2 separate regions of the Homo sapiens genome follow, and region 2 is linked to region 1. Evidence: fine-mapped expression QTL. A gene starts in region 1. The other region holds a variant in brackets. All regions are shown on one strand. Distances are from middle to middle.

Evidence for each region. PIP is the estimated chance that this variant, and not a neighbour inherited with it, causes the effect.
Region 2: its variant is the best candidate, but not a certain one, in a credible set for the expression of NCKAP1L in whole blood (INTERVAL, PIP 0.70).

The regions. Positions count from the first base shown.
Region 1 is chr12:54,490,106-54,506,491 of GRCh38, forward strand. It overlaps NCKAP1L (NCK associated protein 1 like), which reads left to right and starts at 7,647. Exons shown (of 31, transcript NM_005337.5): 1 at 7,647-7,786; 2 at 9,250-9,360; 3 at 10,428-10,520. The coding sequence starts at 7,685. RefSeq lists enhancers at 7,609-7,668, 7,779-7,838.
Region 2 is chr12:54,466,363-54,482,748 of GRCh38, forward strand. It overlaps GTSF1 (gametocyte specific factor 1), which reads right to left and starts at 7,240. Exons shown (of 9, transcript NM_144594.3): 1 at 7,184-7,240; 2 at 4,871-4,915. The coding sequence starts at 4,886. GPR84-AS1 (GPR84, ZNF385A, ITGA5 and GTSF1 antisense RNA 1) reads left to right here. Exons shown (of 4, transcript NR_120487.1): 4 at 479-668. RefSeq lists enhancers at 7,317-7,843, 7,509-7,568. The variant C/G (reference allele first, on the strand shown) is at 10,432.

The DNA of each region.
Region 1 (16,386 bases):
ACACATTTCTAAGGCTTCTGGCTCCATGAGGACTAAATGGTAGGAACCACAGGTTGTCAAATAAAAAGAATGACATTTAAGATCAGGTAGTCTTGGCATAGACCTATTTTATATTGTCAAAACAAAAGTAATATGAAAGATAGGAGTATCTCAAGTCTTACCTATGAAAGTTTCGAGTAACCAAAGCAATAGCCTAGCCAGTTAGACAGTAGGGGAAATTCACTGCTTCCATGCAAAAAATTAACGTTTGTATATATTTTTAGTCTTATAAGTTGTGTTAGATAGAGTGCTTGTCTCTCAAATAAAGTATTAAACAGGCAAAGGTCCTTGGAAAACTCAGTCTGGAGTAAGATGAATTTTTTTTTTTAAGACAGTTTCACTCTTGTTGGCCAGGCTGGAGTGCAATGGCGTGATCTCGGCTCACCACAACCTCTGCCTCCCGGGTTGAAGCTATTCTCCTACCTCAGCCTCCCGAGTAGCTGGGATTACAGGCATGTGCCAAGCCTGGCTAATTTTAAATTTTTATTAGAGACGGAGTTTCTCCATATTAGTCACGCTGGTCTTGAACTCCCGACCTCAGGTGATCTGCCTGCCTTGGCCTCCCAAAGTGTTGGGATTACAGGCATGAGCCACAGCGCCCAGCCAGTGAAATTTCATACTGTAAGCTTGAGTGCTGGAGAAAGAAAGGCTGGGACAGCTGGTTCCTTTACTATTCAGCATTGGTCCCTCCATCCCTTTTCCAACTTACCTAAATTAAGCTCTTTGCCAGGGAAAGATGCTAATTGTCAGATAGGTCAGCATAGCCACTGTTGGAGAAAAGGAATCTGAAGTATGAACAGTACAATGCTTAAGTTCAGGCTACTTTATAATTATAATAATTATTTTTTAGAGATGGGGCCTTGATGTTGCCGAGGCTGGAGTGCAGTGGCTCTTCACAGGTGTGATCATAGCACATGACAGCCTCAAACTTCTGGGCTCAAGCAATCCTTCTACCTCAGCCTCCTGAGTGGCTGGGACTACAGGTACATGCCAACATGCCAATCTTGGGCTACTTTATAGTTACCTGAGAATGTCAGTCTCAAATTTCTAAAGTTGTAGGTATTAACATATGAAGACTCCTAGAAGTGATTCAAGAATATACCATCTCAGATCTGCTACATTTTACTGCCAATATAAGGCCTACTTTCTTCCATGGCTAGCTGTCTTTAGCTATCCTAGCAGACGTTCATATTAAGGACTCTCAAGTTTCCAGGCAACAGCTACACCGAGATTTCTGCAAAGCATGGACAGTATAGTTTGATGGAGGAAAAATAAGATCAAGGCAGACTGGAATAAGCAGTAGGGATAGAAAAGTGCCTTAGAATAGTCCATTTCAATTCTGCTTTGCATCATGCCTAGGGCATAGATAAAGGGCACAGAGCTAGACTATTAAATGTCAGATTTTCCTGAGGGCATTTTGGTGACTAAATCCAGGGATTTAGACTCAGGTACCTTTCAGGAATACAAGTCAGGGTAGTTGTTTAAAGCTTTCACTGCATATTAATGATTATATTAGAGCCATGAACCCTTATTATAAAGTGAATTGGCTCTCTGGAAAATAAAGGCTGCAGCATAATTCAATGTTGTATACTGTTATCTTTAGATTTTTAAAGATAATGGAAAAAGATCTTCAATAACCCAAATGTAGTCTTCAGACAACCCCAAACCCTCATTTTGGCCAGCAGCCTAGAAAAGTATGAAGTTTGACCAGACTGATAAGCCTGGTCTTAATAAATGAAGACTGCTTTAGAATAGGTGGCGAGAATTGGTGACGCTGGGTTATTCACCTGATTATGGATAGCTGAATGGAGGCTAAGACCATTTCCTTTGATATATGTTAGACATGGCCAAAGCATTCCCAACCTTGATGCCACCTTGACACTTAAACCTAGCCTAAAGGATCTTGAGACCTACCTTATTCTTGAAGGAGTGTCTGTCAAGAATCTGAAGGCAAGTGTGACTTGAAGGCGAAGACGATCCTTTGGTAAGACAAAAATAAGACAAATAGCTGAAGTTTGAGGAGAGGGAAAGCACAGTACCTTTTAGTCTGGTGATGTGAATCAACTTTCCATTCAAGCTACTCAATTCCTCTTTTCCCACCATATGTTCTATGATTTCTCAGAGGTTCGGAAATTTTTGATGTCATAGTTAAGTCTTAGAGAACTGGCTCTCAATCCTGATTGTTCATGAGAATCACTGAGTAGTTTTAAAGTGACAGGTCCTTTGGTCCCACTCCAAAACTACTGGATCAGAATCTTCAAGAATGGGCTCTGGCTAATTGTGGCTTTAAAAGAGTTCCACAGGTCTGGCACAGTGGCTCACACCTATAATTCTAGCACTTTGGGAGGCTGAGGCAGACAGATTGCTTGAGGCCAGAATTTTAAGACCAGCCTGGGTAACATAGTAAGACCCCCATCTCTATAAAAAAATTTAAAAAATTATCCTGGTGTGGTGGCGTGTGCCTGTAGTCCAAGCTACATGGGAGGCTGAGGCAGGAGGATCACTTGAGCCCAGGAGTTCAAAGCTGCAGTGAGCTATCATGACACACAGTTGTACTCCATCCTGAGCATCAGAGCAAGACCCTGTCTCTATTAAAAAAAAAAAAAAAGAAAGACTTCTACAGGGGATTCTAGGTCTACCAGGCCATACTTTGGGAGTAATTAAATACCTTTAGAAGGGTTCCTCCAGTTTATGGGAGAAACTGCTGAATGATCTTTCCAATAAGTTTCTCTAAAAACTACCAGTTGGCATAGTTAGTTACATTAATTTTTTTGAGATGGAGTTTTGCTCTTGTTGCCCAAGCTGGGGTGCAATGGCATGATTTCGGCTCACTGCAACCTCTGCCTCCCGGGTTCAAGCGATTCTCCTGCCTCAGCCTCCCGAGTAGCTGGGATTACAGGCGTGCACCACCAAGCCTGGCTATTTTTTTGTATTTTTAGTAGAAATGGGGTTTCTCCATGTTAGCCAGCTGGTCTTGAACTCCTGACCTCAGGTAATCCGCCCACCTTGGCCTCCCAAAGTGCTGGGATTATAGGCGTGAGCCACCGTGCCTGGCAAAATTTTTTTTTTTTTTTGAGACGGAGTCTTGCCCTTGTCACCCAGCCTGGAGTGGCAATGGCTTGATCTCGGCTCACTGCAACCTCCATCTCCTGGGTTCAAGTGATTCTCCTGCCTCAGCCTCCTGAGTAGCTGGGATTACAGGTGCCCGACACCACGCCCGGCTAATTTTGTATTTTTAGTAGAGATGGGGTTTCTCCATTTTGGCCAGGCTGGTCTCAAACTCCTGACCTCAGGTGATCTGCCTGCCTTGGCCTCCCAAAGTGCTGGGATTACAGGTGTGAGCCACCACACTCAGCCCAGAAAATTTTTTTTGAGACAGGGTTTTGCTTTGTCTCTCAGGCTGGAGTGCAATGGTGCAATCACAGCTCACTGTAGCCTCAACCTTCTGGGCTCAAACAATCCTCCTGCCACAGCCTCCTGAATAGCTGGGACTACAGGTGTGTGCCACCACTCCCGGCTAATTTTTGTATTTTTTGTAGGGATGGAGATTCACCATGTTTCCCAGGTTGGTCTTGAACTCCTGGGCTCAAGCCATCTGCCTGCCTCAGCCTCCCAAAGTGCTGGGGTTATAGATGTGAGCCACTGCGTCTGGCCTAGTTCCATTTTTAAACCTAGAGTTTTTCTTTATGAGTGTCAAATAGAATCCACAGAAAGTGACATAACAAGCTCACTACACACTCAAAGATCAAAATTTTACTTTACTGTTGACATTCCTAATCCAATGTAGCAGGTCTTGAACCAAATGTTTACATATGCCATATTATTTCATCAGTTCCACAGTCGTATGAGGGATTACCACCATTTTATAGATTAGGAAACAACTCAATGGTGATAGATAGCTAAAGTTACAAAGCTAGTAAGTGTTTAGCATTATTAATATTAATTGAGGTAATACATGTAAGCTTGAGTGCTTATAGTACTTCAAATGCTTTACATGTACAGAGTAAGTAACTAGGCTATAACTTTTAAAATATGCACAATAGCTCCGTGAAATAGGAAGTATTATCAATATCATCTTTATTTTACAGACAGGATAAATAGGATGTGAACTCAAGATATCTGGTTCCAGAACCTGGGCTCTCGGTCACTAAATCATAAGGCTCAGCCCACTGTACTCAACTACACTTGAGCCAAATTCTGTCTGATAACAGCAGGTAGGCTTTTCGCATATACCAAGTACAGGGGAATAAGTGTTTCCAGGTTTCAACAATCTTTTGGTTCAGCTGGCTAGGCAGTATTATATGAAATGGGCAGTTAAGGACAGAACCTGATTTAGATGTAAAGTATGTGGTATAGACCAAGTGTTGTGGGAGTTCGGCAAAACCTAGACTTGGGACTATTGAGCTAGATCCTGAAGATTGACTAGGATTTGGGTAAGCAAGAAGGAAAGCATGCGTAAGTGAAGTCAGAGAGGCAGACATGAACATAGCACATTCACAGCAGGCTGAGAAGATGGTCCCCACCAAGTTGGGGAGTATCCATTAAGGAGCAGGAAACAAGATTAGCTTGGGATGCAGAGTCTTCAACCACACTTTCAGGATAAAGACAAGAAATTCAAGTGAGGTGGCTCACAAAAAATACAAAAATTAGCCAGACGTGGTGGCCTGCACCTGAAGTCCCAGCTACTCAGGAGGCTGAAGTGAGAGGATCTCTTGAGCCTGGGAGGTCAAGGTTGCAGTGAGCCATGATAGCACTACTGCACTCAAGCCTGGGCAACAGAGCGAGAGCTTGTCTCAGGAAAAAAAAAAAAAAAAAAAAAAGGAATGCAAGAAAGAGCCGCTAGAATTACACTAACCCCACGAAGACCGGTGCTATGCTGCTGCTAAGCTTCCTGGATGTTGGCCTCTTACTGTCTGCTCCATATTCTCCTTGGTAAAGGTAAAAGACCAGTAGAAATCCTACAAATTGCTTTAGTAAAACCTGGGTTTCTTTGATAACAGCAGGTAATTCAAATCTTCATGACCAATATCACATTACCTCGAGCCCATAGCTTTCTAGGGACCCAGTCTAGTAAATAAAATGGAAGGCAGATTCTATATTCCTAAAATGCAAATTCTACCTTAGAGATATTTGAAATTTCATGCGTTAAGTGTTGCCATCTTGCTGCTTCTTTTAAAAATACATTCTCTTTGGAGCATGGATGTTAAGTTTCTTTTTAAAATTAAAAAACATTTAGATTCAGGGGATACACATGCAGGTTTGTTACATGGGTATATTGTGTGATGCTGAGATTTGGGCTTCTAATGAACCCATCACCCATGCCCAAATAGTGAACACAGTACTCAAGTTTTTTTTTCTTTCTTGCCTTTATTTATTTATTTATTTATTTATTTATTTATTTAGAGACATAGTCTTGCTCTATCGACCAGGCTGGAGTGCGGTGTTGAACTCCTGGGCTCAAGCGACCATCCCACCTCAGCCTCCTGAGGAGCTGGGCCTACAGCCATGTACCACCACACCAGGCTAATTTATTTTATTTTATCTGTAGAGGGGTGGGGGAAGGTCTCACAATGTTGCCTAGGCTGGTCTTGAACTCCTGGCTTCAAGCAATCCTTCTACCTTTGCCTCCCAAAGTGCTGGGATTATAAGCATGAGCCACTTCACCTGGCCCCAACTTCTTAAGTAATAATGCTGATCAGCCTTGTCTCTCTTCTCCCACTCCCTAGAATTTATTGGGACAATGGGAACTCTGGATACGGAAAATGGGAATGATTAAAAACCTGAGAAAAGGAATTGGCAAGGTGGTGGAAATGAAGAGAACTCTTTTTGATTTATAATTTTTCCTAGGACCTTTTGCTTTGTGTCTTGAAAGAAAGTTGAAATAGAGTTGAAAATTTTCTTGAGTTACGGAGTTAAGGCCTCATTGGAATGGCAAGAATATTTTAATGCTAAAATTCATTCAAGTCTCTAAGATTTAAGGGTGATTACTAATTTCCTCTTTTTAATCTTGATTAATTTGGTTCTTCTTCATGGGGCCTATTTCCTAATTTAGTCTTAATAATTCAACAAATAAACCAGCATATTTATTGAGTGACTACTGTGTCCAAGAGGTATTGTTCTAGATCAGTGTTTTTCAGAATGGAATATTTGTACCAAAACCTCCTACAACAGTGCTTATATAAGTACAGACTTCTAGGCCCCACAACAGACTCGCCTACCTACCAATGCTAATCTCAGAGGACAGGGATTGATCTGTTTCTCAAGCATCCATAAATACCATGGTACTAGAGCACTGGTTCTCAAACTTGAGTGTGCATTGGAATCACCTGGAGGGTTTGTTAAAACACAGAGTGCCTGGACCCACCCCAGAATTTTGGATTCAGTGGTCTGGGGCGGGTCCTAAGAATTTGCATCTCTAACAAGTTTCCAGGTGATGCTGATGCTGCTGGATCACATTTTGAGAATTACTATGTACTTCTTGAGAACTACTTTGAGAATTATTATGTACTGTAGAAGTACAATGCACTGTAGTAGAGCATTGTGAGAAATATAAAAAAGTATTAGAGGCCGGGTGTGGTGGCTCATGCCTGTAATTCCAGTACTTTGGGAGGCTGTGGCGGGTAAATCACCTGAGGTCAGGAGTTCGAGAGCAGCCTGGCCAACACGGTGAAACCCCATGTCTACTAAAAATACAAAAATTAGCAAGGCGTGGTGGTGGGCACCTGTAACCACAGCTACTCCAGAGGCTGAGGCTGGAGAATTGCTTGAGCCCAGGAGGTGGAGGTTGTAGTGAGCAGAGATCATGCCATTGCACTCCAGCCTGGGCAACAAGAGTGGAACTCTGTTTCAAAAAAAAAAAAAAAAAGAAAAAAAAGTATTAGGTACAATTCCTGTCATTAAGGAGCTTATGCTGTAGTTGGGGGAGATACAACGTACACTATAAACATATAACAAGGAATATATGTATTTGACAATATAAAATATAATACAATATAATATTTGACATTGATGGGGTCTTTAGGAGAAGATGGGATTTGATCTGGGTACTAAAACATGATGAGGCCAAAGGTTCATAGGCATTCTTGGATATAAAAGAAGGAAAATATAGAGGTGTACAGGGGTGGGGTGGTAGATACTTGTTTATCTAGCTTACAGCTTTTAATTTTTATTTTTTATAGAGATGGGGTCTTGCTATGTTGCCCAGGCTGGTCTGGAACTCCTGAGCTCAATGGATCTTCCCACCTTTTCCTCCCAAAGTGCTGGGATTACAGGTGTGAGCCACCACGCCCAGCTTTGTCTAGGACACTTATGGGGGCATAAGACCAAAAAGGTTGGTGCAGTCTGTGAAGAGCCTTGAAAGCCTGTCCTTCTCCTCAGCTCCACCCACTTCATAGCCTTACCAAAAGTGCTGCACAGCCAGAAAGAGGAAGTCTCCCCTGCTGAGTGTGCAAGAGGAAGCACAAGAAGGCTCTGAGGGCCTGTGAGCCATAATGACTGATTTCACCCATGAGCCAATTGCAGAGGCAACAGAAGACCAGTGCACCAACCAGGCTGGGTCCCTCCGCCAGAGGGTGTCACCATCTAAGCTGAAAGTGTTTGGGGAGATCAGACATTGCTGTCTGGTGCTCCTCTCTCAGTGGCCATCATGTCTTTGACATCTGCTTACCAGCATAAATTAGCAGAGAAGCTCACTATCCTGAATGATCGCGGTCAGGGGGTTCTCATCCGTATGTATAACATCAAGAAGGTAAGCATGAACAATGGGACTAGTACTGATTATTCCAACAATAATAGGGCAGGGAACCCTGAGGCGGCAGGTGCAGCAGTTAGACTCCCACCTTTTTTTCCACTGCTTTTCCACTGACTATAATCTACATAATCACTCAGATTATACAGGCCAGCCAGTTCAGGAAGGCAGAAGTGGAGGCTTCTTTTCAAGGCTTCCCCTTTCTAGATATGATTCTTGCCCCAACGATGGCATCTGCTTTCCTCTGGGGATGGGGGTGAGGGTGGGGATGGGGAAACAACAGTGGTATTCCAAGTGACTTGGATAAAGGTCTGGGGTCCAACCTTCTGGGTTTTATTATTTATTGTTGATCCTCTACACTCTGAAGAGATCTGAAGCTGGGTCTCTGGCAAAAACTTTTCTGTGGAAGTGCTTCCCTAAAAGGAAAAAAAATAGATAATTAGGTATTTAGATTAAAAAGGGTAGGTGTCTTCTGAGCTGCTCCTGGGGTAGTTCATGCTGTGGTGGTTGTGTGTGTGTGTGTGTGTGTGTGTGTGTGTGTGTTTAGAATAGGAACTGAGGAATTGAAAGAAGCTAGTGACAAGAGGTGGGCTAGGGGCTGGGCAAACCATAGGAAGTAAAGAGATAAAGACAGGGGTGTTTATGGGGAGTTCCTGGCATAGAAAATAGGGGACTTTGGGGGAGGGAGCTTTTGTGTTTTTTGTAATAAAACAAATCACCAGGAACACGGTTTCTCTGTCACCATGAATCCTGTAAATGCCCTTTGGGATAAGATACTTACATAGTGAACAAAATTGTGACACTGAATCTTGTACAAAGTCTAACTCCTGAGCAGCTGCTTTTCTTGTTCCTTCCGGCTTCAGTTGAGGGGCGGGGAAACAGCTTCCTCTTTGTGCTGGGGCCAAGCAGGCATTAAACTCTACCCATCAAGACAAAATGCCTAGGTTGTTATTTCGCTCTTAGATACTTGGCTTAATGTCTTGGAATTTTTTCTTGACCTACTCTTATGCTTTTTATTTTTATATTTATTTATTTATTTATTTATTTATTTATTTTCGGAGTCTCGCTCTGTCGCCCAGGCTGGAGTGCAGTGGCACGATCTTGGCTCACTGCAACCTCCGCCTCCCGGGTTCAAGCGATTCTCCTGCCTCAGCCTCCCAAGTACCTGGGACTACAGTTGTGCACCACCATGCCCAGCTAATTTTTGTATTTTTAGTAGAGACGGGGTTTCACCATGTTGGCCAGGCTGGTCTCGAACTTCTGACCTTGTGATCTGCCTGCCTCGGCCTCCCGAAGTGCTGGGATTACAGGTGTGAGCCGCTGCGCCCAGCCTCTCATGCTTTTTAAATTAGTTCCCAGGTTGCCTTTTCCTAAGACAGATTATGAGAATGAATGTTGCAAGAAGAGGTATGTTTCTGAGGAGGAGGAGAAAGGGTTGAAATATATATGGTTTCTCTCTGCAGACTTGTTCAGACCCCAAATCTAAGCCACCTTTCTTACTGGAAAAGTCCATGGAACCATCTCTCAAGTATATCAACAAGAAATTTCCCAACATAGATGTCCGAAACAGCACGGTGAGAACTTGGTCCTTCTCTCCTTTCTCTGAATAATTCTCTGCTTGAATGGCTGAAATTCTCCTCTTTTGATGCCTCTCTTCAAACTTGGCAGGGGATGGAGTAGTCTTTTTTTATTAATAGTTTTCCAAGGCTCAACCACAGGGCTTCAGGTTGTTGTAGAGCTTTAAGTCTTGAGCATTTTGAGATAAGATGGGATTCTTCCAGCATAAGCTGGAGCGAATCATCACCCCTTTTCCATTGCAAGATTCATGGGAAAACATTGTTTTTGTACAAGACAGCTCTATCAACCCAGCAGGGTACATGTATTTTATTGTTTCTGTTTCCCACTCACTGTTTCCTTGCTGTTTGTCTTAGATTTCTGCATCTAATGGGATATCTCTACTTTTCCCTTATTAAATGTTAACCCTAGATTTTTCACCCATCTTTGTAGCATCTTTGAATTCTGTTTCTTTTGACTTTGATATAAATAGTATATCTGTTCATCTGAAAGGGTGCTTAAAATTTCCTCTCATTTAGCCCTCTGTATCTAGTCAGGATCACATGCAACCATTCTACCTAGATAGACAATCTCCTTTGTTTAAAGACCTTCAGAGCACTGAAGCGTTTCTAACTTCCTCTGTCAGTATATTTCAACTCTCTTTCTTTTTCTTTTCTTTTCTTTTTTTTTTTTTTTGAGATGGAGTCTTGCTCTGTCACCCAGGCTGGAGTGCAGTAGCACAATCTTGGCTCACTGCAACCTCTGCTTCCCAGGTTCAAGTGATTCTTCTGACTCAGCCTCTCGAGTAGCTGGCATTACAGGCGCCCGCCACCACGCCCAGCTAATTTTTGTATTTTTAATAGAGACGGGGTTTCACCAGGTTGGCCAGGCTGGTCTTGAACCCCTGACCTCAGGTGATCCGCCTGCCTCGGCCTCCCAAAGTGCTGGGATTACAGGTGTGAGCCACTGCGCCCGGCCTCAACCCTCTTTAAGAATGTTTTAGGTATAACCACTGTTCTTCTTGAGTTATTTGGATCAATTGTCTTATTTTGCACTTTTTTATTGTTTTGTTTTGTGTTTCTCTCAGCAACATTTAGGACCAGTACATCGTGAAAAAGCCGAGATAATTAGATTCCTCACCAACTACTACCAGTCATTTGTGGATGTCATGGAATTTCGGGTGAGCTCTCTTGAGCCGTTTCCAATGTAGGCAAGGTCTTTCAGAGGCTATTCTTTCTTTAGATGTTCATGTATTTGCTTAAAACAAGTTCTTGAAAAAATGAGAGAGATGTACTAATATGGAAGGATATCTAAGTTGTATTGTTAAATGAAAGCAAATTTCAAAATAGTATATGATACATCACATTTCTATTTTAAAAGAGTATGTATGTATATGTATTTAGTAAATATCTAGGAAAGATCTGGACTATTTTACATTAAACTGTTAAAAATAACTACCTTTGGGGACTGATTATGACTGGCTTCAATTTAGTAGGCTATGCATGTTTTTTCTATTTTAAAAATTATGGTAAAATACACATAACATAAAATTTACTGTCTTAACCATTTTTAAGTATACAGTTCAGTGGTACTAAGTATATTAATAATGCAACCATCTTTTCACCTTGTAAACCTGAAACTCTCTACCCTTTATGCAATAATTCCCCATTTCCCTTTCTTTCCAGCCCCTTGCCATCACAATTCTACTTTGTTTTTGTGATTTTGACTATTCTAAGTACCTTATATAAGTAGAATCATAAAGCATTTGTCTTTTTGTGGCTGGCTTATTTCATCAGCCTAATGTCCTTAAGGTTCATCCCTGTTGTAGCATATTGTAGAATTTCCTTTTTAAGCTAAATAATATTCCATTGTATGATTATACTACATTTTGCTTATCCGATCGTATGTTGATGGACACTTAGGTTGCTTCCAAGTTTTAGCTATTGTAAATGATGCTGCTATGAACGTGGGTGTACAAATATATCTTCAAAACCCTACTTTCAATTCTTTTGATTATAAACATGAAAGTGGAAATGCTGGATCATATGATAATTCTATTATTAACTTTTTTTTTTTTGAGTTAGGGTCTCACTCTGTTGCCCAGGCTGGAGTGTAGTGGTGCAATCACAGCTCACTGCTGCCTCGACCTCCTAGGCTCAGGTGATCCTCCCACCTCAGCCTCTTGAATAGCTGGGGCTAAAGGCACATGCCACCACACCTGGCTAAGTTTTTATATTTTTTGTAGAGATGGGGTATCCCCATGTTGGCCAGGGTGGTCTCAAACTCCTGGGCTCAAGCTATCCACCCACCTCGGCCTCCCAAAGGCTGGACTGTGCCGGCCTATTTTTAACTTTTTGAGGAACTGCTATACTGTTTTCCACAGTGGCTGTACTCTTTTACATTCTCACCAACGGTGCATAAGGGCTATAATTCCTCCACATCCTCGCCAACAATTGTTATTTCGTTTTTTTGACAGTAGCCATCCCAGTGGGTGTGAGGTATTATCTCATCTAAGTTTTTATTTGAATTTTTGCTAATGATTAGTGATAATGAGCATTTTTCATAGGCTTATTGGCCATTTATATATCTTCTTTGAAGAAATGTCTGTTTCATTCTTTGACCATTTTTGAATTGGATTTTTTGTGTGTGTTGAGACTTAGGAGTTCTCTATACAGGTTGAGTATTCCTTATGGAAAATTCTTGAGACCAGAGTGTTTTGAATTTCATATGTTTGCAGATTTCAGAATATTTGCATTAGGCAGTTGAGCATCCCTAATATGAAAGTCTGAAATTTGAAATGTTTCAATGAGCATTTCCTTTGAGTGTCTTGTTGGTGCTCAACAGGTTTCAGATTTTGGAGCATTTTGGATTTTCGGGTTAGGGAAGCTCAACCTGTATAAACTATATATCTTTGCATTATTTGAGCTTTAAAAATTTCAAGTATTTTTCCACAATATTTTATACAAACCTACTGTAAAATTTCTAGTATAGTACAATGAATATTGTTATACTCTTCTCCTGGATCTCCTAATTGTTAGTATTTTGCCACATTTTCTTATCCTTCTCTATTTTTTAATGAACTATTTGAGTTAGCCTCATACATCATGACATTTCCTTTCCCAAATACTTAAGCATACATTTGCTAAGAGCAAGAATATTTTCTTACCCAACCCTAATATAATTATCATACTCAGGAAATCATACACAGGAAATATAACATACACAGGAAATATATCATACACAGGAAATATAACATTATGGCTGGGTGCTGTGGCTCACGCCTGTAATCCCAACACTTTGGGAGGCTGACGGGGATGAATCGCTTGAGCCCAGGAGTTTGAGACCAGCCTGGGCAACATGGTGAAACCCCATCTACACAAAAAAAAAAAAAAAAAAAAAAAAATTAGCTGGGCATGGTAGTGAGTGCCTGTAGTCCCAGCTGCTTAGGAGGCTGAGGCAGGAGGATCACTTGAACCTGGGAAGTCAAGGCTGTAGTTAGCCATGATTATGCCACTGGCCACTGTACTCCAGCCTGGGTGACACAGTGAGACTTTGTCTCAAAAAAAAAAAAAAAGAAACAAAACCCCACCCAAACTAATATACAGCCCATATTCACATTTCTCCAGTTGTCTCAAGGATAATACATTGGATTTAGTTATGTCTCCTTCATCTTTAATCTAGAATGATTTCCAGCCTTTGTCTTGTATGACACTGACATTTTTGAAGAGTCTGGGCTAGTTATTTTTGAGAAATCCTTCAATTTGAAATTGTCTTATTGTTGATAGTTTTTGGGAGCAATACTACATGGATGATATTTTATTTGAATTTTAAATAATGAGCATGTATTATTTTTATAAACATAAAAAATAAAAATTAATATGATGTTTTTGAAAGAAAAATTGATAAGGTATTATTAAAATTTTAAAAATTAATGTCGTAATTTTACATTTAGAAATTTGTCATAAGGAAACAGAATTGTTTCATGGGGAAATAAAAAAAGGAAACAAATGCAAAGACATATGTATAAGAATATACTCCATTGCATTATTTATGATAGTTACAATGTGATAATTGATATATCCAATAAATAAAGGTTTGGTTAAAAGTTCAGAGTATGTGCCCACAAATGAATATTCTGTAGCTGTTAAAGTATACACACATATATATATATACACACACATATATATTTTTTCTTTTCTTTTTTTTTTTTTTGAGGCGGAGTCTTACTGTGTTGCCCAGGCTGGAATACAGTGGCGTGATCTCGGCTCACTGCTGCCTCCGCCTTTGGGTTAAAGCGAGTCTCCTGCCTCAGCCTCCTGAGTAGCTGGGATTACAGGCACGTGCCACCACGCCTCGTTAATTTTTGTATTTTTAGTAGAGATGGGGGATCTCACCATGTTGGCCAAGCTGGCCTCGAACTCCTGACCTCAAATGATCCACCTGCCTCGGCCTCCCAAAGTGCTGGGATTACAGGCATGAGTCACTGCACCCAGCCAATAATATATTTTTTATATTAATTGGTATAGAAAATGTTCATCATATGTTGTTTAATGTAAAAGCAAATTGCAGTAAGACAGTTTAAGACAGATGTAAGATGTAAGATGTCCCTAAAATGTATATTTACATAGGTAAATATGCATATAAAGAAGATTGGAATTTCTGATCGGTGGGATTATAGTTTAAAAAAGCTAGTTAAAATTAAACTTGTCGGTATTTTCTAGTTTTTTCTACAATAAACATGTATTATTTATGTATTCAAGAAATAATGCAAATTTTAGCCCTCTGAGCAACCCAAGCTTGTGGTGGTGTTATAGTATTTTTTCAGATGATACAAGAATAATGTGTTCTGTGCCTACCCTAGGAAGCAAATCCAGGATATTCAGTAGATCACATAGTGAAGAGAGAAGTGAGGACAAGAAGGACTGTAATGTATGAACGAGGGTCAGGTCAGAGAGTATTCATTGTGGAATTGAGAGTAGTGGTTAGCAAGAGGGTAGGTGCTGGTGGAGGCAGTGGGAAGAATGCTGGAAGCACATAAAAAAAGTCTCTTACTGAGAAAAGTTGAAGGGCAAAGGAGATTTTAGAACACCTTCTGGTTGCTGCAGTGGTAAATAAAGTTCTGAGCCCAAGGTGTTTGGTACGGCTTGTTTAGGAAAGGAGGGGAAATAGGGACATTGAAGTATGATGCACTGTTAAGTAGGCCCTGAATTAGACAGACTTGGTTTCAAATCTCAGCTTTACCACTTACAAACTGTATGACTTTAGATAAGAAACTCTTTAAATTCCAGTTTCCTTATCTATAAAATGAGGAAATAAGATTTACTGTGTGAGGCGTCTGTGAGAATTAAATGAGATAATGCATGGACAACATCTAGCTTGGTGTTTAGCATATAGTAAGGCAATAGACCAACACATGTTATTTCCGTTCCCTTCTGATTCTTGTCTGTAGAGAATAAGACCTGCGTAGTGACATTGGTTGTGTGAGTGGCTGAAAGTGAATTTCAGCTATATTCCACTGGAATTTGGGTGTAGGCTGGAGTTGTAGAAAGGCATTCCTAGCAAATGAGGAAGTATAGACCTAGACAGAGGTCATGTAGCATACAGGGAAAATCAAAAGCTCTGGATTCAAGTTCTAGTACCATTCCTTACTAGCTCTATGATCTTAGGCCAGTTTCTTTATTTTTCTGCATTCATTCAGCAAGTATTTATGATGTCACCCGGCTCCCCGCCACATTGCGGAAACAAGCATGGAGACGGGGCACTGCCTGCACAGGGCACATTTTGGGGGACAGCTACCCTGTCTGGTGTGTTAGGCAAGTTTCTTAATGGCTCTTGGCCTTGGTTTCCTTATCTGTTAATTTAGACACAGCCTTTTTTTGGAAGATAAGTAAGAAGCACTTTTCCTACACATTTTAATAAATTTTGACAAGTGTATATGCCTGTGTAACCACCACTACAAAGTATTGAATATTTCCATCACCCCAAGGGTTCCTTGTGCCTTTTTTTTTTTTTTTTAGCTTCAGCCAATCCCTACCCTTCACTTCTGGCCCCAGGCAACCACTGATCTACTTTCTAGAATAGATTTTTCTTTTCTAGCAGTTCAAATAAAGGGAAACTATACAGCATGTATTCTTTTGTGTCTGGCTCCTCTCACTCAGCATCATGTTTCTGAGATTGATCTATGTTGTTGCATGTATCAGTGATTCAGTACCCCGTCCTCCCTTTTTTTTTTTTGAGATGGAGTTTCACTCTTGTTGCCCAGGCTGGAGTGCAATGGTGTGATCTTGGCTCACTGCAACATCTGCCTCCTGGGTTGAAGGGAGTCCCCTGCCTCAGCCTCCCAAGTAGCTGGGATTACAGGAATGCGCCACCACACCTGGCTAATTTTGTATTTTTAGTAGAGACGGGGTTTCTCCATGTTGGTCAGGCTGGTCTCGAACTCCCGACCTCAGGTGATCTGCCCACCTTGGCCTCCCAAAGTGCTGGGATTACAGGCGGGAGCCACGGCACCCGGCCTCAGTCCCCCTTTTTGCTGAGAACTATTCCATTGCATGGGTACAATTTATTTATCCATTTACCTGTTGATAGACATTTGAGTTGTTTCTAGTTTTAGGCCATTATGCGTAAGTTGCTACAAACTTTCAAGTACAAATCTTTGTGGGGACATATTTTTCATTTCACTTGGGTAAATCTAGAAGTTGAATTGCTGAATCATATGGTAAGAGTATATTTAATTTTATAAGAAACCGCCAAACCTTTTTTCAGAGTTGTTCCATTTTATCTTCCCACCAGTAATGTATGAGAGCTTCAGTTTCTCTATATTCTCATCAGCACTTGCTATTATTAGACTTACATTTTAGTTATTCCAGTGGGTGTGTCATGGTATCTTATTGTGGTTTAAATTTGCATTTCCCTGATGGCTAATATCATTGAACATCTTTTCATGTGCTTATTATAAATATATATATATATTTTGAGACAGAGTCTTGCTCTGTCACCCAGGCTGGAGTGCAGTGGCATGATCTCAGCTCACTGCAACCTCCGCC
Region 2 (16,386 bases), 24 kb before region 1:
CAGTTTCACTGGAAGAGTGGTAAACATGGAATAAATTGCCAACCATGATCGTGATGCAAATGAGCCAGAAAGGTGACTTGAAGGACAGAATGAATAGGAAGGAAAAGTCTTAAAGGACAGGCAGGCTTATTATGCTAACCAGGCTCTTCTTGACCAGCAATGTTTCATATTTCCGAAGCTTCAGGACAACCAGGGAGAATTTACAGATGAAATTCTTGTTAGTTTCCCCTGATTTAATCCATTCCCATCACTAGCAAATGTTAGGCCATGTCAGCAGCTGATAGACTGGATGGTACCTTATGATTCATATATATTATACTGCCCATATAGTAGCATATGTCAGAGTTGATAATGAGAGCTTCTCATTGTAATGCTTTACTTCCTGGTCTCCAGCACTTTAGGTCAACTTTAACCTGGCTTTCTAGATTAAAAAAATTTTTTTGATTTAAAAATCTTTTTTTTTTTTTTTTTTTGACAGAGTCTTATTCTGTTGCCCAGGCTGGAGTGAAGTGGCGCGATCTCGGCCCACTGCAACCTTCACCTCCCGAGTTCGAGCGATTCTTGTGCCTCAGCCCCCGGAGTAGCTGGGACAAAAATCTTTAACTGTGATTAAAAACACATATAAAATTTACCATGTTAATGAATTTTAAGTATACAGTTCAGTAGTGTTAAGCATTAATATATTCCTTATTGTTGTGCAACTAGTCTCCAAAAGTTTTTTGTTTTACTAAACTGAAACTCTATACCCATTAACCATCAGCTCTCCATTCCCCACTGCCCCCAGCTCCTGGCAACCACCATTACTTTTTGTTTTGGTGAGTCTGACTAGATACATCATATATGTGAAATCACAGTCTTTTGCTTTTTGTGACTAGCCTATTTCACTTAGCCTAAGGTCCTCAAGGTTTATCCGTGTTATAACATGTGACAGAATTTCCTGTGTGTTTTTTTTGTTTTTTGTTTTTTTTTTTTGAGACGGAGTCTCACTGTTATCCAGGCTGGAGTGCAGTTGCACGATCTTGGCTCACTGCAACCTCCACCGCCTGGGTTCATGTGGTTCTCCTGCCTCAGACTCTTGAGTAGCTGGGATTACAGGCATCCACCACCAAGCTCAGCTAATTTTTGTATTTTTAGTAGAGACGGGGTTTCATCATGTTGGTCAGGTTGGTCTTGAACTCCTGACCTCAGGTGATCCACCTGCCTCGGCCTCCCCAAGTGCTGGGATTACAGGTGTGAGCCACCACATTCGGCCATTTCCTTTATCTTCTGTCTTGCAATTTGCTTTTTTTTCTTTTCACTTAATGTATCTTGGAGTTCCTTCCAAGTCACTACATATAAGAAATATTTCACTGCTGCATATGGATGTATCAAATTTTTGATTTTCTTATTAATGGACATTTACATTGTTTCCAGATTTGTTTTTTTTTTTGAGATGGAGTTTCGTTCTTGTTGCTCAGGCTGGAGTGCAATGGCGAATCTCGGCTCACTGCAACCTCTGCCTCCCGGGTTCAAGTGATTCTCCTGCCTCAGCCTCCCAAATAGCTGGGATTACAGGCACCCGCCACCATGCCTGGCTAATTTTTTTGTATTTTTAGTAGAGACTGGCCAGGCTGGTCTCAAACTCCCGACCTCAGGTGATCCACCTGCCTCAGCCTCCCAAAGTGCTAGGATTACAGGTGTGAGCCACCGCGCCTGGCCCAGTTTTTACTATTATATACAATGCTGTGACTAACAATCTAGTTTATTCTTCTTTTTGCATGTATGAGTATTTCTTTTCTTTTTTGAGACAGGGTCTTGCTCTGTTGCCCAGGCTGGACAGTGCAGTGGTGCGATCTTGGCTCATTGCAACCTCTGCTTCCTGGGTACAAGTGATTCTTGTGCCTCCACCCCGCAAGTAGCTGGGATTACAGGCACACCTGTTTAATTTTTTGTATTTTTAGTAGAGGCAGGGTTTTGCCATGTTGGTCAGGCTGGTCTCAAACTCCTAGCCTCCTGTGATCTGCCCACCTCAGCCTCCCAAAGTGGTGGGATTACAGGCATAAGCCACCGTGCCCGGCCAATGTATGAGTATTTCTCTTGGATAAACACCTAAGAGTATTGCATTGAAGTGTCTGTGCATTAAAAGTTGTAATAAATACTATCAAACTGCTCTACAAATTTTTGTCTGGCTTCCTGGGAATATAATTTACTTTCGAAAACGAAGTAGGTCTATTTGACAAGCTTCCTCTAAAAGCACAGACTCAGCTGTTACTCAGATTTGGGTAGGGACCAGAACCCATGGTGAGAAATGGAGAAAACTTCATGGAAATAAGGAACTAGGCCTGACAAAAGTATCATCAGCTAAGAGGTACAGTCCAAAGAGAGAAGACAGAGATGTTCAGGAATCTGTAAGATTAAGCTGGAAATCCAGGTCAATTTGGGAAACTATAGTCTAAGGCAGTGTTTCTCAAACTTTAACTTACTCTCCAGGTGTTACATCACTTAGGGACTGTGTTAAAGTGCTGATTCTGATTCAGTAGGTCTGGGATGAGCGCTGAGATTGTCCATTTCCAACACACTCCCAGGTGATATTTAAGAAAAAAAAAATGTGGCTGAAAAAAGTAACGAAGAAGTAAGAGACAGAAAGGGGAGATGTTGTTTTCTAATTTAATAGACAGTAGTATGCTTCCAAGAATAAGTGTATATATACCATACAGGGACTTCACATTCTTCTTCTTTTTTCTTTTAATTTTTTTGAGACGGAGTCTCGGTCTGTCGCCAGGCTGGAGTGCAGTGGCGTGATCTTGGTTTACTGCAACCTCCACCTCCTGGGTCCAAGCAATTCTCCTGCCTCAGCCTCCCGAGTAGCTGGGACTACAGGTGAGTGCCACCAGGCCCAGCTAATTTTTGTATTTTTAGTAGAGACGGGGTTTCACTATGTTGGGCAGGATGGTCTTGATCTTTTCACCTTGTGATCCACCTGCCTTGGCCTCCCAAAGTGTTGGGATTACGGGCCTGAACCACCGCACCCAGCCTTCTTTTTTCTTTTTAAGAGACAGGGTCGGCCAGGCGTAGTGGCTTATGCTTGTAATCCCAGCACTTTTGAGAGGCCAAGGTTGGTGGATCACTTGAGGCCAGGAGTTCGAGACCAGCCTGGCCAACATGGCGAAACCCCATCTCTACTAAAAATATAAAAATTAGCCAGGCGTTGTGGCATGCACCTGTAGTACCAGCTACTCAGGAAGCTGAGGCAGGAGAATCGCTTGAACCCAGGAGGCAGAGGTTGCAGTGAGCTGAGATCATACCACTGCACTCCATCCTGGGTGACAGAGCGAGACTCCTTCTCAAAAAAAAAAAAAAAAAAAAAGACAGGGTCTTGCTCTGTCACCCAGCCTGGGGTGCAGTGGTGTGATCATAGCTCACTGTAACCTCTAACTCCTAGGCTCAAGTGATCCTCCTGCCTCAGCTGCCTGAGTAGCTGGGATTACACGCATGAGCCACCACGCCTGGCTCAGGAATTTCACATCTTAAGTAAAAACACTTTAAGAAGGCTAGGTGTGGTGGCTCACACCTGTAATCCCAGCACTTTGGGAGGCCAAGGCAGGTGGATCACAAGGTCAGGAGTTCAAGACCAGCCTGGCCAACACGGTGAAACCCGGCCGGTCTCTACTAAAAATACAAAAATTAGCTGGGCATGGTGGCACACGCCTATAACCCCAGCTACTCAGGAGGCTGAGGCAGAAGAATTGCTTGAACCCGGGAGGGTGGAAGTTGCAATGAGCCGAGATTGTGCCACTGCACTCCAGCCTGGGTGACAGAGCAAGACTCTGTCTCAAAAGAAAGAAAACAAAAACTTTAAGAAAAATTAAGGGGCAGGGGATCCCTTTTCTCAAGTGTGGTCCTCAGATCAGCATCACCCTGGTAACTTGTTAGAAATGCAAATTCTCAGATACCAGACCTTTTGAATCAGAAAATCTGCAGGTGGGACCCAGCAATCTGGTTCAACAAGCTTTCCAGGTGATTCTGCTGCATGTTAACAAGTTTGAGAACTACTGTGTTCTAGATATTTAATAAAGATTATTTCTATGTAGTTTCTGTATTTTGGAGATATAGCTCTCCACTGGACTCTTCCTAGAGGGTAGAATGGGACTGAAATATCCTTTAGTTGGAACTTTTAATTATAATGAGATTCTGAACAAGACAGCAAAGTAGGAAGAAAAAGTAGGTACTGTTGACAAGTTTTATCCACGGGCATAAACTCAGATATTCCTCAAATTTAGTCAGAGCCTAGAACAGAGCCTGTGGTGTCATGTAGGGTACTAGGTATAAACAATATAGAAGACTCTGGTTCTGACTCTGTCCCTAACTATGTAAACTTGGGCAAAATAATTAATCTAGGTTCTGTTGTCTCTGTTGTAATAGATGATTTTTCAAGTCCCTTTTGGTTCTACACTTGTATGATTCTAGGTGCTGGCTCTGCTTTGATTTCTTGGGCCATCTAAGGTTCCTGGATCACTTGAGAAATAAGAATCCTTCCCAGATTTCTTATCCTAAAAACTAATGTACATCAACATTATTATATATTACTCCTCAAAATAGAAAGTAGAAGTTACTATCCCCGTGTCATACATACAAGAAGGTGAAGTCCTGCCTCATTTAATAGTTTAACAAAGGTGTCCTAACTGTGGCCTTTTCAAAGCTTTATGACTTCTCATACCTCTTTTCTTAATTTTCAAGTATCTTATTTCAAATTTGGGCAATACCATAAAGACTTTTCCTCCTTAGCAGTTGAGAAGTCCGACTTCTTCCCAGCACACTAAAAGTCTTGTCAGATATAAAACTATACGTAAATGATTTAACTTATTTTCTAAAAGCAACAAGGAGTACATACTGTAAGTTTCTTCCATGTTGGAAATGAAGAAGCTGAATCCAAGTGCTGGAAAAAACAAAAGTGTGATTCAGGAAATCAGAAATAAAATGTACCAAAAGGTAACCCTAAGAAGTGGAGTCACTTCTGGATTTGAAACTACCCAAGTTCAATATAAGAAACCTTTACTCTCCCCACTCCCCCCAATATTTTCTTCTCTTTAAAGCATTCTTCTTGGAATCATTTTAACATCATGGCCTAATTCACATTCTTGGAATAAATTCTAGGGCCTACCAAATAGTTAAGAAAAACCAAATATGACTCCTATAGTTCAAATTTAAGCTGTATTTGGGTGATAAGATGTCTACCTTAAGTGCTATTACTTAAGTGCCTGTCACTGTTTAGCATCTATTAGGGTTTGACACTATTAATATAATAGTGATTATAATATAAATATCCATATAATATTTAACATTAGAGGGGGCAAGTCAAGACCACAAGAATACTGTCATTTAAACTTATGCATGAGGGCTGGGCGTGGTCGCTCACACCTGTAATCCTAGCACTCTGGGAGGCTGAGGCAGGAGGATCACTTGAAGCCAGGAGTTTGAGACTAGCCTGGCAACAAAGCAAGACTACGTCTCTACAAAAAACAAAACAACCCCCCCCCAAAAACAAACAAACAAACAAACAAAAAAACAAACTTAGCCAGGCATGGGGGCTCATGCCTGTAGTCCCAGCTACTCAGGAGGCAAAGGCAGGCAGATCACTTAAGTCCAGGAGCTATGAGGTTCGTGCCATTGCACTTGGCCTGGACAATGGAGTGAGATCCTGTCTTTAAAAAAACAAAAAACCCCTTATACATAAACACAGAAATAATGTTCTATTATAAAGCTTTCCTCCTGGGTTCTTAAAAATACAGATAGGCAGGTTACCAGTCTTGTTCCTCTCTAGGACCTGGAAATGCTGGAAGTCTTTGACAGACAGTATACACTCAACCCTTCCAATATGCTTGGAAACACTAGTTCACCATTTTCATGACTTTTCTTAAACATGATCAGGAAGGGCCACACTAACATTGTCCCTTTTTCTAGTGAGGTTTCACCTCCTCTCATCCCAATCTTCAGTGCTAAAGTGGCAATACTTTAAGCTTCTCCAATTAATACTCATTCCCTCTATGCACTAAGGGAAAACCTCTCAATGTTAGGACTCAAGAACTGTCCATATTATGGATAACAGAGTCACAAGAGAACAAATCTGTAACAGGAATGTGAAACATTAAAAGAGAAATGGTTTCACAGTTTGAATCCTTTTCTATTAGAAATCTCTTCTATTGAGCACTGAGACTAAATACATTTATTATTGTGGGAAAAACCTGAATTTATATAAAACCATCCCCATACGAAACTTCTGAAAATTGTCTGTCTCTAGAGCATGCTCTCCTTTGGCCCCTCACACAATTCTACACTCCTCACCACCCCTCCCCCCATTCTGTGACATAAGCAGCGTTAGAACCTATGATAGGAAATACAAGTGATCAGCTAGAACTCTAGTTTTTTTGCTACTGAGCCCATTTGTTAATGACAATCATTAGTGAATTTGTCTTAAAAATATTTTTCATATTTATGTTTGGATCAAGAAATCCCCACCGTCTTTTTGTATATATTTCACTTATACATAGTTACTTCATACTTTTTCATTAAAAATAAGAGTTTTGGAAGGAAGAACCAAGTATGTTTCTTGATTTTAAGTGATGAGCACCAGATTCAGCAGCTTGTAGGAAGCCAACCTATTCTTCCCGGACAAAAGGACGAATTACAGTACACTAGGGGCACTGGAATTCACAGTACCATCACTTAGCCGTGTCTGTTTTAAGTATCTTCCGCATCAAACTGTTAACGGGATTCTTTACCTTTTCCCTACTACTAGATCACGGTGAAATAGACAAGCTACGCCGGAAGCAATCAAGTTTAGGGTATGGATGTAGTCGGCGGCTACTGGTTAAACGCTTAACAGAATTCCGGCCTTAGTAAAAGAATCATTTTTCTTCCTTTAAACAACAACAACAACAACAAAATCACAGTAGACTTAATCAATGAGACTAAATAAGAGAAAGTGGGGGAGGTGGTTAACTTAAAAAAAACATAGAAAAGGCGCCAAGGAGGCCCTCGAGTGGGCAATGCAGCGAAACAGGTTGGTAGCCAAAATAGCTGCATTGAGAGCCCACAAGGCTGAAGGCTACCAGCAGAAAAGCGAAATGAGGATATTAGAAGGTGAAGGTATCCCGGTACGCAAAATAGGAATTGCTTAGAGGCGCCCCGGGGTGCCTTTCCTTACCTCGGTGGACACACACCTTCCTCACAGTCACCTTCCTCCCACGCAAGCCCCAGCAACGGCCACTTCCGGCGCCTAACGTTGGGAGGTGGGGCGAGGGGCCGGCACTTCCTGTGACTGGGAGTCTCGGTTCTGGCTGAGTGTGGGGCAGGGTGGATCAGCTGTGGAGTTCACCTGTGAGCCCCTAGGGTCAGCTCCCTGATGACCCTTTCCCACGAGGATCTCCTCCTTGGGCACCCCATCTTTGGGGCCATCCTCCCCTGGCCCCCAGAACAACAGTGGCCTTGAGAGGGTAGAACTCGCATTTCTTTCCCTGGGTTTTGTGGCGGCCATCTTAGAAAAGGCAGATGAGCACTTAGAAATGGGCACCTGCGATTACCTCAGGAGTTCAAGACCAGCCTGGCCAACATGGTGAAACCTCGTCTCTACTAAAAATACAAAAATTAGCTGGGTGTGGTGGCGGGCGCCTGTAATCCCAGCTACTTGGGAGGCTGAGGCAGGAGAATTGCTTGAACCCGGGAGGCGGAGGCTGCAGTGAGCCGAGATTGCACCACTGCACTCCAGCCTGGGCGGCAGAGTGAGACTCCGTCTCAGGAAAAAAAAAAAAAAAAAAAAAAAAATGGCGCCTGAGGGAATGGGACTGATGGAACTGGTTAGAGGTGGGGAGCTGCCTAGAAAGAAGCCTTGTTTGTGGAAGTTGTCTAGATAGAAAGGTAATTTAGATTTTGAGGGAAGAGAAGAGGAATTATAAAGGAGATACGCAGTGCAGCCACAAAACAATCACCAAGGACAGGAATTTTGTGTCTGGCTGTTCTTGTTTAGAATGTGTTGTAAAATCCCAAAATTCAAAAGGCACTAACTATCTGAGAATGCTTGGTAGGATGATGGTTGTTGCTGCCTGATGAAAGCGAGTTTTAGAGTTGGGGAGAGAGCTCAATGAAGAGTTGGAGAGGACAAGAAGGCCGGAAGGTTACAACTTGTTAAGGGAAAACCAAACGTAGTGTGAGGCTTTGTTCTGGGGAAAAAAAGTGTAAGCTGCAGTTCTTGTCCCCAGAGTGCTTAGAAAAACGACTCCCAAAGTGGATGAAAGGTTTAATAGCAGTACAAAAAATGCCAAAAAAAGTGGTAGAGACTGTAAATTCCTGTAAGGAAAAAAATTAATGGGGCCTGAAATGACCTGGGAAGGCATTATAGAGAAAAGGGACTTGTAGCCTTTGAAGGTTAGACAAAAAAAGGAAGGTGTTGACACTACAAGTAGATCTGGTGGTAATATTTTTCAAAACCAAGAAGTAAAAGATATGACAAAACATTCTGTGCTGTTCAAGATGTAGGAGGCAGTCTGGGTGATTAGTCTGGGCAGTGAAATATTGGGATTTCTACAGCATTTCAGTGGTGTAGAGCCCAAATAGGACTTGAGAGGACTACCCTGACAAAAACTGAATGTAGCTTTAGTAAAAAGGATCAGTGGGGCATTTTCTTTTTCTTCTTTTTTTTTTTTGAGATGGAGTCTCGCTCTGTCGCCCATGCAGGAGAGCAGTGGCATGATCTCGGCTCACTGCAACCTCCGCCTCCTGGGTTCAAGTGATTCTCCTGCCTCAGCCTCCTGAGAAGCTGGAACTACAGGCAGGCACTACCACACCCAGCTTTTTTTTTTTTTTTTTTAAGTAGAGACGGGGGTTTCACCATGTTGGCCAGGCTGGTCTCAAACTCCTGACCTCAGGTGATCTGCCTGCCTCGGCCTCCCAAAGTGCTGAGATTACAGGTGTGATCCACTGCGCCGGGCAAGGGATGTTTTCGTTTTACATGATTAATTTGTGAGCGTTTATTGTTGTTACTCCCTCCGCACCCCCTCCCCCCGACCTTTTTTTCCTACTAGAAGAGAGTTTGCTCCACAGCCATCAGTTCAGATTAAGACACTAAAAAGAACCAAGTGTTGATGGAAGCCAGGCTCAAGCCATTGTAGGCTAGTGGTTCTTAATCTTGTCTACACCTTAGAATCATCAGGGGAGCTTTTAAGACATACCATGCCAACTTCCCATCCCACACCAATTAATGTGAAAGAGCCAGGCATAGTTATTTTTAAAAATCTACCCAGATGAATTTAATGTGTAGCCAGGGCTGAGAACAACTGACCTAGGCATTGTTTTGAAATCAAAAAAGCCATTCTTTCACCCATGGCCTGGATGATTCATTTGAAGGAGGAGCAAACTGTTAAAGTGGTTTGCGAAAGATAATTGCTAAGAAGGAAAGCTTCATTGCAAGCTTAGCACTAATCATTTTGGAAAAAGTTGTTTTGGCAAATCAGTTTTAGATTGTTAGGAAATATTTTAAAACAATTTTCATGAAATCCTAAACCTCTGATTTTATCACAGTATCATTAATGCAGATTGTTGGGGCCAGTGTGATTTGAAATGAAATATTTTTTCAGGCTTTACATTGCAGTAATCTGGTGAAATTGTTGACAGTGCTACTGTGACCCATAAATACATTTTATTCAGATACCTGCAGATTGAAATTTCTGAGGAAGAAAGAGCTAAGGGCTTGGGAGGATAGGGGAATGGGTACCAAACCAGAATCCAAAGTCAGGCTTCACTGCATTCAGTAGTAATGCCTTGTCAGAATGACAGGATCCTCAACTGATAATGCTGTTTCATTTAGCACCTGTGAATAAGCCAACCAACTTTCAAACAAGCAAAAATCAAACCTGTTTTTCAATGGTGATTTTGAAATAAAAATGCACCACACATCTGTTCTTTCTATTCTTAAGTATTTTGTTCATTCCTTTCTAACTATAAATTTTCTGCTTTGTCTGAGGTCCCTGCTTAGCTTTCTTTTAGACTGGTTTTCCAGCCAGGTTGATCATATTTGAAAAGGAAAAAAAAAATGAGACAAGGCATTTTATACAAGGGTCATTCTAGGAGCTATTGGGAATTAATACCCTAAACTGAATCTGATCCGTGCTGGTTCTATCTGTGTATATACTAGCATTTACCTCTAAATGTTGTGTGTGTGTGTGTGTGTGTGTGTGTGTGTGTGTGTGTGTGTGTGTATACATTTTTTGTAGAGATTGGGGGTGGGGATCTCGCTATATTGTCCAGGCTGGTATCGAACTGCTGGCCTCAAGTGATTCTCCCACCTCAGCCTCCAGAGTTGCTGAGATTACAGGTGTGAGCCACCACCCCCAGCCTCCTATAGATTATATTCTTAGAATTAATAATAGTTGGCTGGGTGCGGTGGCACATGCCTGTAAT[C/G]TCAGCACTTTGGGAGGCTGAGGCGGGTGGATTGATTGAGCTCAGTAGTTTGAGACCAGCCTTGGCAAGATGATGAGACTCTGTTTCTCTAAATACAAAAATTAGCTAGGCCTGATGGTGGGTGCCTGTAGTCACAGCTACTCGGGAAGCTGAGGTGGGAGGATTCCTTGAGCCCAGGAGGTCAAGACTGCAGTGAGCTGAGTTTGCAGTTCATTGTACTCCAGACTGGGCGACAGAGTAAGACTGTCTCAAAGAAGAAAAATTTAAAACGAAAGAATTAATAATAGTAAAAATAAAATATCTGAACTAATGAATAAATAGATCTATTCTCTTAGTTATTGGAAAAAACCCTTTGTTAGGAAGATAGTTTTCTCAGATTTTAGGATTGAAGGCATTCCAGTAGTCCTTGAGGTTCTTTAGAAACTTTCTGTTTTCAGACAACCCTAATAAAACTTAAAACTTTTGCCCGTCAAAAGACCAAAATATATTTTTTTGTTTCTGGCTTAGGTTTTATTAATCAAGTCCTGGTTCTCTCATCTAATTATTAATTTTTCTCTCATCTAATTATGATTTCTGTTTGGCAGTTGGGTGTATAATTAAAAATGGAAAAATTATTCAATAAATTCAGTTGCAAATTCTTTCAAAATGAGGGTTCGGCTGGGCGTGGTGGCTCACGCCTGTAATCCTAGCACTTTAGGAGGCCGAGATGGGCAGATCACCTGAGGTCGGGAGTTTGAGACCAGTCTGGTCAACATAGTGAAACCCCATCTCTACTAAAAATACAAAAAAAAGAAAAAAAAATTAGCCGGGTATGGCGGTGTCTGTCTGTAGTCCCAGCTTCTCAGGAGGCTGAAACAGGAGAATCGCTTGAACCCGGGAGGCAGAGCTGCACTCCAGCCTGGGTGACAGAGCAAGACTCCGTGTCAAAAAAAAAAAAAAAAAAAAAAGAAGAGGGGCTCTATGGGGTAACAGATATTCTTCTTGGTGAGAATAAGTGAGAATAGATTAGGAAATATTGCTTTAGGGGAGGGTGAAAATATGGGGTTGGTTACAATTGTTCAGGAAAAGTAGCAGGGAGAGGTAGTGAGAGCCAATGAAAATAAATTTATGTTTAAAAAAGAGTTGCTAATGAGGACTTGCCAAGAAGAGCCAACATTCAGTTCTAGAAGCTAAAGCAAAATACAGGATGAGTGAAGAAAAACTGGTAGTGATATTTTGTTTGTCCTAGAGCCATTCTATGTTCTAACATGTAAATGTTACGTATTTCTGTAATCCACATTGCCTGTAATAGTTACCTGTATACCTGACAAATCTATTCTTTATGTTTTTCCTTTACATATATAGTTCTTTCCCCAGGACTCAGCAACAAATATCTCTTACTCTCTTTCTAGTGCTGGCACCTAAGATGTAAATTGTAAGCCAAAGTTCATAAGCATCACTTTGGTAACTTCTTAAAAGACTGTTGAAAAGATGGTAGGAGGTGTGAACCTATGGATTATGTTGAAAAAGAAAAAGATGGTAGAAGGGCAGAATTATACTAAAAAAACCTTACTAAAAGTTCTGTAAAGGACTGGTCTTCCGTAGAACAATTCTAAAATTCCAACACTGCTGTTTTGTGGATCTATTATTTTAAGGCATATAAAATGTTTAAATCCAAGGTTAATTTTCTCTGTGAAGCCTTCTTTTAACCTTTACTTGGGATTAGTCCTTACATTTTTCCTTCCTTCCTTCCTTCTTTTCTTCTCTTTTTTCTTCCTTTTCCCTCCCTCCCTCCCTCCCTCCCTCCCTTCCTCCCTTCCTTCCTCCCCTTTCCCTTTCTTTTTTTCTTCTCTCCACAGGGTTTTGCCCTGTTGCCCAGGCTGGTCCCGAACTCCTGAGCTCAAGGCATTCCCCTGCCTTGGCCCCCCTGAAGTGCTGACATTAAAGGCAGAAGCCACCGTGCAGCCCCAAATCCTTATATTTTCTTGTAATCTTCCTCCACCCTCCTATCCTCCCAGCACTGAAACTGTCCGTGACACCAGTGGCTCTTAAAGTGTGGTGCATAGACCAGCAGCATCGGCATCACCTGGGATTTGAGGAAATGCACATTTTGGGCCCCATTACAGACCAACTGAATCAGAAACTCTGGGGGCTGAGGTGCCCTACAGTCTGTGTTTTAATAAGCCCTCCAAATAATTTTAATATCCAATAAAGTTTGAGAACCATTGCCCTATACTATAGTTGCCAACATTGTTCCCCAATAATGGACCATGGCCACTACAGTTTTTTTTTTAATTGAGGCGATTGGCAAATAAATTGTATATATTTAAGGTGTACAACATGGTGTTTTGATCCAAGTATACCTTGTGTAATGATTTCCACAATTGAACTAATTAACAAATCTATTATCTGACACAGTTATCTTTTTTTGTGTGTGTGGTGAGAATACTTAAGATCTATTCCCTTAGCAAATTTCAAGTATGTAATACATTATTATTAACTATAGTTACCATGCAGTACATTAGGTCTCTAGAACTTATTCATCTTAAACTGAATATTTATACCTTTTCACCAACATCTATCTCCCTATTTCCCCCAATACACTACAGTTCTTAATTAAGTAGTAACATAGTAGATACTTGATTATTTGACTTGAGAACAGGTGTATTTTTTCAGGTGCTGCAGCAACTATATGATATCATCTATCTTGTGAAGAGCATGGGGGAAAAAGAGACTAAAATATTTAGGTTTTTTTGAGCCTGTTTTATACTGCAGCTACTTGGAAAGGCAGAGCAAAAAGGCCTGTAAAGTATGGACCAACCACAGGATAGATAAAGATGTGGAACTAATGGGATATGTTTTGGTGCATATTTTGGTGCATATCTAGGACATGAGTAACAGGCCTTAGCAATTTTTTCCCTCGTAGTTCATACTATGAGTGTAAGGGTTTAAACCTTAAAACCTGATTTTAGGGGATAAACTTTAAAGCTGGAAATTCTTTACTATTCCAGAAATATAACTGAAATTGCCATTTTTTTTTTTTGAGACAGGGTCGCACTGTGTTGCCCAGCAGTGGCACAATCTCGGCTCACTGCAGCCTCAACCTTCTGAGCTCCATCAATCCTCCCACCTCAGTCTCTTGTGTAGCTGGGACCACAGGCACTTGCCACCATACCTGGCTAATTTAACATTTTTTTTTTAGAGATGGGGTCTTGCCATGTTGCCCAGGCTGGTCTTGAACTCCTGGGCTCAAGGAATACTCATGCCTTGGCCTCCCAAAGTGCTGCGATTATGGGCATGAGCCACTGTGCCTGGCCTTGAATTACCTTAATAGAACTCATTATTTTATTTTATTTTGAGACAGGGTCTTGCTCTGTCCTTGAGGCTGCTGGAGTGCAGTGGCGTTAACACAGTTCACTGCAGCCTTGACCTCCTGGGTTCAAGTGATCCTCCTTCCTCAGCCTCCTGAGTAGGTGGGGCCATAGGTACCTGCTACCATGCTTAGCTAATAGAACTTTTTAGAGAAGAGAACCTGGTTACCAAAGTTTTTGAAAGGTTGATTTATTCTGATAGAAATATTTAGCCCAGGTTTGGTGGCAGTGGCTCACGCCTGTAATTCCAACACTTAGGGAAGCAGAGGTGGGAGGATAACTTGTGCCCAGGAGTTTGAAACCTGCCTGGATAACATAGTGAGACCTTGTGGTATTCTCCACAAGAAGTAAAGAAAAAAAGACAAAAAAGAGAGAAATATTTAGCCCAGACTACTGAGTCTTTTTTTATCCCATTGATAAGATATAGATTCTCCACATTCAGCAATCTTGCTTTTAGGTACAGGATGACTACATAGTCAAGATCATACCTATCTTCAAGTGTCCTATAGCTTAACAATAATAAAGTGGAATGAAAGGTTATTCGGAGACATGAGACTCCTGTTATGGGAACATGGGGGAATAGTTTAGGCTTTGGGAAATCTAGGAAGGCTTTGAGGCAATTACTTTTAAACTCTACTGAAAAAAAAATGCATGTGCTTTTATTTTTTTTCCCATAAGTTTATTTGGTGTTTCTCAAAGCTTTGACCAAATGTTATGTTAGAAGCCACAAAGTGATGTTTTAACTTCTATTATGCTTTCTTTCGAAGGCCTCAGAATTTCTTAAAGATTTGAGTAGCTCTGGCACCCATATTTTGAATGACACAGTTGCCTAATAAATGATGTTTTTTTCTCTTAAGACTAGGGTGGCCAACCTGATTAGTCTGGTTGTCCCAGTATCATTATTTTTATTTTTACTTTTTTAAAGATGGAGTCTTGCTCTGTCACCCAGGCTGGAGTGCAGTAGTGTGATCTTGGCTCACTGCAACCTCTGCCTCCCGGGTTCAAGCAGTTCTCCTGCCTCAGCCTCCCGAGTAGCTGGGATTACAGGCACATACCACCACACCTGGCCAATTTCTTAATTTTTTGTAGAGACAGGGTTTTGCCGTGTTGGCCAGGCTGGTCTCTAACTCCTGATCTCAGGTGATCCACCCTCCTTGGCCTCCCAAAGTACTGGGATTACAGCCAGGATAATTATTGATAGTGAGCCCTTTCATACTCAAAAATATCCTTGTTTGGAAAAACAAAATCATTGTGGTCACGTCAAATAAGACTGTATGGCCTTTTAAGGGAAGATTCTCTATATGTAAAATATGATAAAGAAAGACATTTGATGGGCTGGGCACGGTGGCTCACGCCTGTAATCCCAGCCCTTTGGGAGGCTGAGGTGGGTGGATCACAAGGTCAGGAGTTCGAGCCCAGCCTGACTAACATGGTGAAACCCCGTCTCTACTAAAAATACAAAAATTAGCCAGGCGTGGTGACGCACGCTTGTGATCCCAGCTACTTGGGAGGCTGAGGCACAAGAATCGCTTCAACCCGGGAGGTGGAGGTTGCAGTGAGCCGAGATTGCACCATTGCACTCCAGCCTGGGCGACAGAGTGACACTCCATCTCAAAAAAAAAAAAAAAAAAAGAAAGACATTTGATGATATTGGGTCATTATTCTTAGGGAACTTTTTTTTTGTTTTTATAATGTGGTGTCGATATACCAAAGGATAATTTTAAAAATTGAAAATATGTGTAAGGCCTTAGTCAGGAGATGAAAGTAGGCCAGGTACAGTGGCTTGCGCCTGTAATCCCAGCACTTTTGGAGACCAAAGAGGGTAGATTGCTTGACCCCACCAGCCTGTGCAACATAGTGAAACCCTGTCTCTACAAAAAATTAGCCAGGTGTGGTGGGGTGTGCCTGTAGTTCCAGCTACTCTGGAGGCTGAAGTGGAAGAATTACTTGAGCCCAGGAGTTGGAGGTTGAAGTGAGCCGAGATTGCCCCATTGCACTCTAGCCTAGGTGACAGGTAAAGACTTGTCTCAAAAAAAAAAAAAAAAAAAAAAAAGATAAAGTAAGAAGATTATTCTAGAAAATAAGTAAGGATTAGCCTCCTAAGGGCATAAAATATTCAGTTGTCTATAACTTCCTTTAATTGTAAATCTAAATACACCTGAAATAATCACTAAACTAAGCAAAAAAAACCATATCGTTATTTTGAAAGGCTTAGCTAGCTGCAATAAAAAAAACAATTATGACTTCAGAGATTTTGGCCTGTCATAAATTGGGTCTTTTAAACATTAAGTTTAAGCATCAAGTATTTCAATATCTACTAGATGCACAGCAGCAGACTAGTGGTGTAACAAGTACAAAGCAACACATGATTCGGACTTCTCTCGTGAGGGTTTGTGGTATGGTTGAGGTTGGAGAAAATTGTCTATATTTAACTGCCATGATAGAAATCACTAAAGAAGATAGGGAAGGTTTAAATGAGGTGAGGAATAAGAGTTGGATTAAAAAAAAAAGCTAGAACAGGAATTTAAACGATTGAAGGGCAAGGGGTGACATTTAAAAATGAGCAGAGTGGGCCGGGCGCGGTGGCTCACGCCTGTAATCCCAG